2 linked regions of the Homo sapiens genome follow. The protein of the gene in region 1 purifies or fractionates together with the protein of each later gene. This does not show direct contact. Each region holds a gene or a part of one and is shown in the gene's direction. Other genes may lie near its edges.

The links. The genes of interacting proteins can lie anywhere in the genome.
Region 2: the proteins of LRRC37A2 (region 1) and DUSP29 purify together in Homo sapiens (affinity purification with mass spectrometry; one large-scale study listed by BioGRID and IntAct). This does not show direct contact.

What each region holds. Positions count from the first base shown.
Region 1 is NC_000017.11:46,515,468-46,518,967, forward strand, and holds part of LRRC37A2 (leucine-rich repeat-containing protein 37A2 isoform 1 precursor), read left to right. Parts: intron 1-1,234; exon of another isoform or gene 1,235-1,546; intron 1,547-1,626; exon of another isoform or gene 1,627-1,647; coding exon of another isoform or gene 1,648-1,766; intron 1,767-1,894; coding exon 1,895-1,966; intron 1,967-3,500.
Region 2 is NC_000010.11:75,070,843-75,074,922, reverse strand, and holds the start of DUSP29 (dual specificity phosphatase 29), read left to right. Parts: upstream 1-1,280; 5' UTR 1,281-1,354; intron 1,355-1,689; exon of another isoform or gene 1,690-1,821; intron 1,822-4,080. UniProt on the Homo sapiens protein: Dual specificity phosphatase able to dephosphorylate phosphotyrosine, phosphoserine and phosphothreonine residues within the same substrate, with a preference for phosphotyrosine as a substrate. Involved in the modulation of intracellular signaling cascades.

The sequences.
Region 1 (3,500 bases):
CTCCTCATTCTCTTTTAATGTTAGGCCCCTTCTCCAGTCTTTTCCTTTTACTCTGGTCTTTTACTCGTTTTTGTATCCATTTTTATTTAGCCCCATCACATCATTGCTTAACCGCTGCTCTCCTCCCATTTTCGCTTCACCCTCTTTACAGCAGCCTGTCCCTCTCCCGATCTCAGTGATGATGCTCTAAGTGGTTAAGAGTTGATTCCGGAGCCAGGCTGCCTGGGTTTGAACCCAGATCTATTTATTAGCTTGGTGACCCAGAGCAAGTTATTCTGCCTGTGACTCAATTTCCTCACCTTTAAACTGGGGATCATGCTAGTTAGCATTTCATAGGATTGTTGTGAAATTTAGGTGAGTGAATATATGAAACACTTCATCAGTGCTTAGCATATGTAGGAGAGTTGGCTGTTCACATGATTATTCAGTCCTTTAGTTTTGTCCAGAACTCATTTTTGTCCCTAGCTTTCTATATGTAGAACTAGTTTTATGTCAAACCCAGGGCCAAGTATGCTACTGTCTCCAGAACACGAAAATGATAGGAGGGAAGAGGCTGGGTGTGGTGGCTCACGCCTGTAATCCCAGCACTTTGGGAGGCCGAGGCGGGCGGATCATGAGGTCAGGAGATCAAGACCATCCTGGCTAACATGGTGAAACCCCATCTCTACTAAAAATACAGAAAAAAATTAGCCAGGCATGGTGGTGGGTGCCTGGAGTCCCAGCTACTCGGGAGGCTGAGGCAGGAGAATGGCATGAACCTGGGAGGCAGAGCTTGCAGTGAGCCGAGATTGCACCACTGCACTCCAGCCTGGGCGACAGAGCAAGACTCCATCTCAAAAAAAAAAATGATAGGAGGGAAGAAAGAGAATAGGCATAAAAAGGGAGGTATATATAATTAAGTACTAAAAGATAATGCAGACCATTGGTGCTAGAATTTGCCAGAATCTGTGATCCTTGAGGTGTGGAGATGCTACATGGGTAAGCTAAAACTTTACTTGGGTCTTAAAGAGTAGCCATAATTTGTTAAATAGGAGAAAAATGGGAGTACAGTCTAGGCAAACGCATGGCTACAGGTATGGTTGGAATTTAGTAGACCAATGTGGCTACAAAGAATTAGGTGAGGGAGCAATGAAGATACGATTCTGTAAAACCTTGATTATCAGCTACAGGAGTTTGAAAGTTACACAATGAGGTATGGAAAGCCATTGAAAGTTTCCAAGCAAGAGAGATTACATGATCAAAACAGGAAGATTATTTTATTTTGTTTTTTGCATTATGTGCAAGTGTAGACATGCAGAGGATTGTTTTAGAATCCATATGTAAAGTGTCCAAAAGGAAAAGCTTAATTCAGGGAGACAAAATAGAAAGGTCTAGCAAAATCTAGGAGTGAGGTGTGAAGGGGCCAAATCAGATCAGTTGTAATAGGAGTGGAAAGAAAAAGCCTAGGATGTTTCAACAGAGGGCACTGGGCCAAAGCTTTGGTGTTACCTGGCATAGGGTTTCTTTCTTCTCATTTGTTGATAATGATAAGCTTTTGCCCATATTTCTGTGGAATTATTTACCATTTTGGTACTGATTTGTAGAAGTCTGTTTAGACACATAAGTGCTTTTAGATAAAATACTTACATTCAAAGTAATTAACTGGCATCATCTGTCCAAGAGATGGGATGGATAAGAAGTTAAGCTTCCAGGAGATGCCTCATCATTTGTGCCGGTGACCCCGCATAATTTCTTGATGAATTGTGCAAACTGGGAAGCTGATAGCTCTGGAAATGAGAAAGCAGGTGTTATTTTCTGTTTCTGAATATCCCCAACAAGATTGCAATGATTCTTTTACTTATCGTGTTCATTGTTTTCCTACCTATTCAAGGATATAAACTGTGTTTCTTCACAGAAATTTCCAAGGAAACTATATTTCTTACATTGATGGAAATGTATGGAAAGCATACAGTTGGACCGAGAAACTGTGAGTATATTCTCTCCAAATATGACAAAAAGCTAACTGCATTGTAAGATCCTTCTTGGTCCAGAATTTTGAGGTCGGTACCTCTGAGGAAAGATATTTCTCCTCCACGCCCCAAATCAACCACTGTTGATTGCAATTGTATGGTTATTTTAAAATTAAATTTGGTAGGCTCTCTTTAAAATAAGAGGCAATTTAAATTTATTTTTTATCATACAAATAGTACATGGTTATATTCCTTTTTGTTCTCTTTTTTTTTTTTTTTTTTTTTTTTTCAGAGACAGGGTCTTACTTTGTCCTCTGGGCTGCAGTGCAGTGGCACAATCACAGCTCACTGCAGCCTTCACCTCCCAGGCCCAAGTGATCCTCTCACCTCAGCCTCCCCAGTAGCTGGGACCACAGGTGCATGCCACCACACCCACCTAATTTTGTATTTTTTGTAGAGACAGGGTCTTCCTATGCTGCTTAGGCTGGTCTTGAACTCCTGGGCTCAAGTGATCCTCCCACCTTGGCCTCTTAAAGTGTTCATATTACAGGCATGAGCCACCACCCGCAGCCCATGATTCCATTTTTAATATATAAAAATGCAATAACAGATATAACAAAAACTCTCCTTGTGCCCTACTCCCTCATCCCTGAAGTAATGCTACTCTGCATTTAGTATACATGCTTCCAGACTTTTCCTCATTTACCTACATACATATTTACATAAAGCAAAATAGATTTGTTTTGTGGTTTTAAAATTTTTTCTTCGCATAAAGGGTAACATCTTGCAACTTGATTCTTTCACTTCATGATATGCCTTAGATTTCTTTCCTTCCCAGTACTGAGAGGGTCACCCCATTCATTTAAACTCCTGCATAATCCATAGTATGGATGCATCATGGTTTATTTAATAATTCCCCCATTGATGAATGTTTAGATTATGCTTAGTTTTCTTGTTACATGCATTGCTGCAATGAAATCCCTGTACATGCTTCTTTGTGAACATGTGCAAGTATTCCTGTAGCATAGATATCTGGAAATGGAATTCTTGGGGTGAAGACTATGTAGATATAAAATTTTAATTGCCTTCAAAAATTTTGTGCCAACTTACTCTATTGTCAGCAGAATATGACAGCATTCATTTCCCAACACCTTTTCACCGCTGGGTATTCTCCAACTTTTTGCTGAAGTTATGGATGAATAAAAGGGATTCCATCTAAATGTGAATTTTTCTGATTACTCATGAATTTAATTTAGTATCTTTATATGTTTATTGAACATTTGTGTTTCTTCTCTGAGTTTTCTGGCCTTTGTTCATTTTCCTGTTGAATTGTTTTATCATTTTCTTACTGATTTATAGAAGGAATTGGTTTAGACACATAAGTGATTTTGGAAAAAATGCTTACATTCAAAGTAACTGACATTTTTCACAACAGTTTGTGTGTCACATCATTATTCCAATGTATATAGACAAGCCACGATGAGTTCTAAATTAAAAATAAACATATGCTAGGCGCGGTGGCTCACGCCTTTAATCCCAGCACCTTGGGAG
Region 2 (4,080 bases), on another chromosome or scaffold:
TCTGACATTCTGACTTCATTGTACACTCAGATTCTGTGTATTTGCCTTGGGAATTTTCCTCACACCAAGAAATCAATAAAAGCTAAGTCACTTAGCAATGAATAGTACTAGTAGAAATAATTGCTATAAATTAAACTGGCAGTAGCTAATGTAGCAAATTGTGAGGAAGATCTTTGGTTGGGTGAATAAAGTTTCAGAGGACAATATAATGACCCCAATGCAAGAAGATTGTGTTAAGTGAAAGATGTGGGAGCCTGGTGCTTCCTTCCCTACTTCTCCCAGTCCTTCACACACTAAAGCATGCCCCAGAGAGGATGACAAGGATGGATACGAATGGAGAACCACGTCATTCATTATAAGGAACTGTAGCAAGCCCTGGGAAGATTTTACTAGAAAATTAGAGGAGACTGGGCAGGATTTTGCCCGTAAGTATTAAAAAGCGGGGCTACATTGGTAGGGCTTGGTGGGAGGGATCCCAGAGCAAAGAACTCTGGAGCCATTGAGGAGGAAGGTTGACAGAAGAAAGGGCCAAGAAGAGAGACCTGGGAACGACTGTTAATGACTGTTAACGTTAAATATATATATATATATATATATATATATATTTTTTTTTTTTTTTTTTTTTTTTTTTTTTGAGACAGGGTCTTGCTTTGTCACCCAGGCTGGAGTGCAGTGGCACAATCTTGGCTCACTGGAGACTGTTAAATATTCTAATACCACCAAATTCTTTATCTCATTCAGTCCTCATAGCAATGTAAGAGGAGGATATTATGATCATTATCCCCACTGAAGCCCAGCATGGTTGGGTGCTTGCTGGGGTCTCACTGGAAGCCACACAGCACAAACTCTGCCCAGAGTTTCATTGATTACCCTGTGTGATGTGGCATCCATTCCATTGGCCTCCCAGAGATAGCTCCACAAACTCTCAGAAAAGACTGGAATAGAGAGCTGTGCCAGTGGGCAAACCTCCCCTGTTCTAGCTGTTCTGGGACAGGGCTCAGGGCAGGGCCTGTAGACACCTGGCTTCGTCCATCCCAGGAAAACAAAGTTGGAAAATTCCTGTCTGTCCCTGCCCTGGTGGCCACATGTCCTGCCTCTGTGGCTGGGCCGGGGACAAGCGTGTAGGCTTCAGGTACAGGGCTTCCTAAGTCAAGGGTTTCAGGTCGCACTGGAAAATCATTTTGCAAGCAGATGTCATAGGTCTCCTCTTAGACTGGACGGCACGCAAGGTCAGCGTCAGCAGATCTGACCCTAAAAATAGGCCTCTGTTGCCAGTGGGGGTGGCTGGGCGTGCGGCTGCTACATGCCCCACGGACCAGAACCTCCCGACGCGGCCAGGCCCCGGCACACCCAGGTAAGGCCGCTGGGTGGGGAGGCCGGCACCCCTTGGGTTCACCCACGTGTTCTTTGGGGGCCTGGGTGTGGGGATTAGAAGCCCCTTTTCCACCCTGTTCCTGGTGCTGTGGGGAATAGCCGACCTCCTTCTAGTGTGAAAGGTTTCTTGCTGTCCTTTTACGAGAGACACCATGGAATTTTCTCCATTTCCCTTTCTCCAAATCTGAACTTCCAGTTCAACGACCATTTCTAAAGGATAATGGGGTGGATTAAAGCTCATCGAGCCCTTGTGAAGCATTGGATGTATTGTATCATATTCCACATTCCAACGAGGTTCTACGTTTGTCCATTTAGCCAGTAAAGGGGGAGAAATCTCGGGGGCGAGAGAGAGAGAGGCCCTGGAGTGACTCGGATCCTGTGTAGGGCAGCATCAAAGACAAGAAAGTACTTAAAGCTCCAGGGATGAGAATTCTCCCTGTGTCCCAGGTAACACAAAAGCGTCATTTGGACAGAGTGGCGGGTTTGGGAGCATTTCTCAGTCCTGGTGGGAGGATGGGGTTGGGGATGACGCTGCCGTGGTAGAGATGGGGGGTGGGACTGGGTCATGAAGGATCAGAGCCACTGGACCAAGAGTGTAGGCTGTACCGCGTGTGGGCAGGAGGCGGGATGGGCCTGTGTCTCAGACCTGTGTGGGCAGGAAGTGGGACGGGCCTGCGTCTCAGACCAGGGCTCTCCCATTAGACCCTGGTGCCCTTGTGCTGTGACCCCAGGGGTCCCTTCATGGGCCTGGAACCCAAGAACAGTTGGGCCCGGGGGCTCTGATCGTTCGGGAAAGCGGAAAATGCTCCAGCGAACAGGAGGAAGGGCACGAGGAGGATGTCTGGAGAGGTTGCCACACTCACGGCCGCCAGCACCTGAGGGTCCCTGGCCCTGGATGTTTTTTCCGCTGCCCCCACCTTTAGCTTGTGATCCCTCCTTGTTCTCATCATGAGAATATCATTTGGTCCCACCGACAAATCCGAGGACTCTGACATTAATAAACAACACTTGAAGGGCTTCTGAGCTGAGTTCTTAACAAGGAAGGCGCGTTGGGCATGGAGGCTGGGGTGGACATGGGGTGGGTCTGAGGAGAGTTAGTGGGAGTGAAACAGGAAAGGTTCCTTTGTCCCTCTCACAGGGCATGCGACGGGGGTGTGGCTCGCTTGTTCAGTACCCAGCTGCTCAGACCTCTAGAGGAGCATACAGACGGGCAGGCTGTGGGGCTCTGACCCCATGGCAGTGTCTAGGGGTGAATGTTTACAGCTGAAGCCCCAGTGGGTGTGTGTTACAGGGTGCTCTTTTAGTTTGCTGTCTATAGGCGGCTTGTGTTAACTGGCTCAATTAGACCTCCTTCCTTATCACAAGGACAGAGGGATTTCTGTATCCTGGGGTTTCTTGCCTTGGTGTAGGGGAAGAATCAGATCACATGTGGGCTTGGAGAAGAGTGCAAGGTTTTATTGAGTAGAAGTAGCTCTCAGCAGATGGGGGAGCCAGAAGGGAGACAGTTTTTCCCTGGAGTTGGGCCACTCAGCAGCCGACTCTTCTCCTCCAACCGCTCTGGCCAAACTCCGCATCATTCCGCTTGTCAATGGCCTGCAGGCCTGCCAGTGCCTGTCGGCGTGATCTTCTGCCGGCGCGCTTTTGACAACCAGCCGCTTGTGTCTTCTGCCTATGTGTTCCTCAGTACGTCCAGCCGGTTGTGTGTCTCAGGTTTTTATAGGCACAGGATTGGGGTGTGGCGGGCCAGGGTGGTCTTGGAAAATATAACATTTGGGTGCGAAGGCAGGAGTGCCTGTCCTCACCTGGGTCTGTGGAGGTGGAGCCCTGGCCAGGGACCTGCCTTTCTCTACCCAGCACTTCCTGGCCCTCCTCCGGTATCAGGATCTCACTTGGCTCTGAAGGATCTTCATGGGCAAAGGCAGATCTGCGCTGAGGGTGAGGAGAGAGCCAGTGGTCCTCTGCCATCAGACAAACTGGAGCCCTTACTGGGGACATTTCAGTCATGGCTGACACCTGGGTTGGGTGGGAACCTGGTCCTGTCTGCGGGTGGCACTCCCGTGGCTGTTGTTGACCCCACAGTAGATGAGGGGCTTAGGGGAGGCCCTGAGGCCAGGGGCTGGGCTGTGAGCATCTTCCAGCAGCCCCAGGGAGGCCCAGTTGAGTCCACCAGGGTGGGGGTGAGCAGCCTCCACCAAGCCTTCCCCAGACACTGCGGCCCCGAGGCCTGGCGGTGTTTCCTGTGCTATGTGTCTGGCACTGTTCCAAGAGCTTTCCTGACAAGCAGGAATCATTTATTCCTCAGAATTGCAGCAGCTTAATGAGGGATGGACAGCACAGCCCCATTTCAGATTGGACACGGAGACACAAATACTAAGTGTTCTGCCCAAGGTCATGCAGCCTAAACAGGGGCAGAGGCCAGAACCCAGCGTGCCTCAGAGTTTCGGGGTGTAGCCCCTTTGCTCTGGTGCCTCTCATTGGGGTAGAGGCCTGGTGGCATCTCACTCTCCTACTCCTCTCAACCCCTAAACTCCAACCAGGGCCCCTGTCTCAGGGAGGCCCGGCCTGGAAACAGCCACTCCAGGTTCCTGGGCCAGGAGTTAGCTGTTTGTCCTCTTCGGCCTGATTTCAGAGCAGATGGTGTTTTAATCTCCTCTTCTGGTGACCATTCACGTTTCTGGGCCTACCCGTTCCACAGTAACGAGGGGG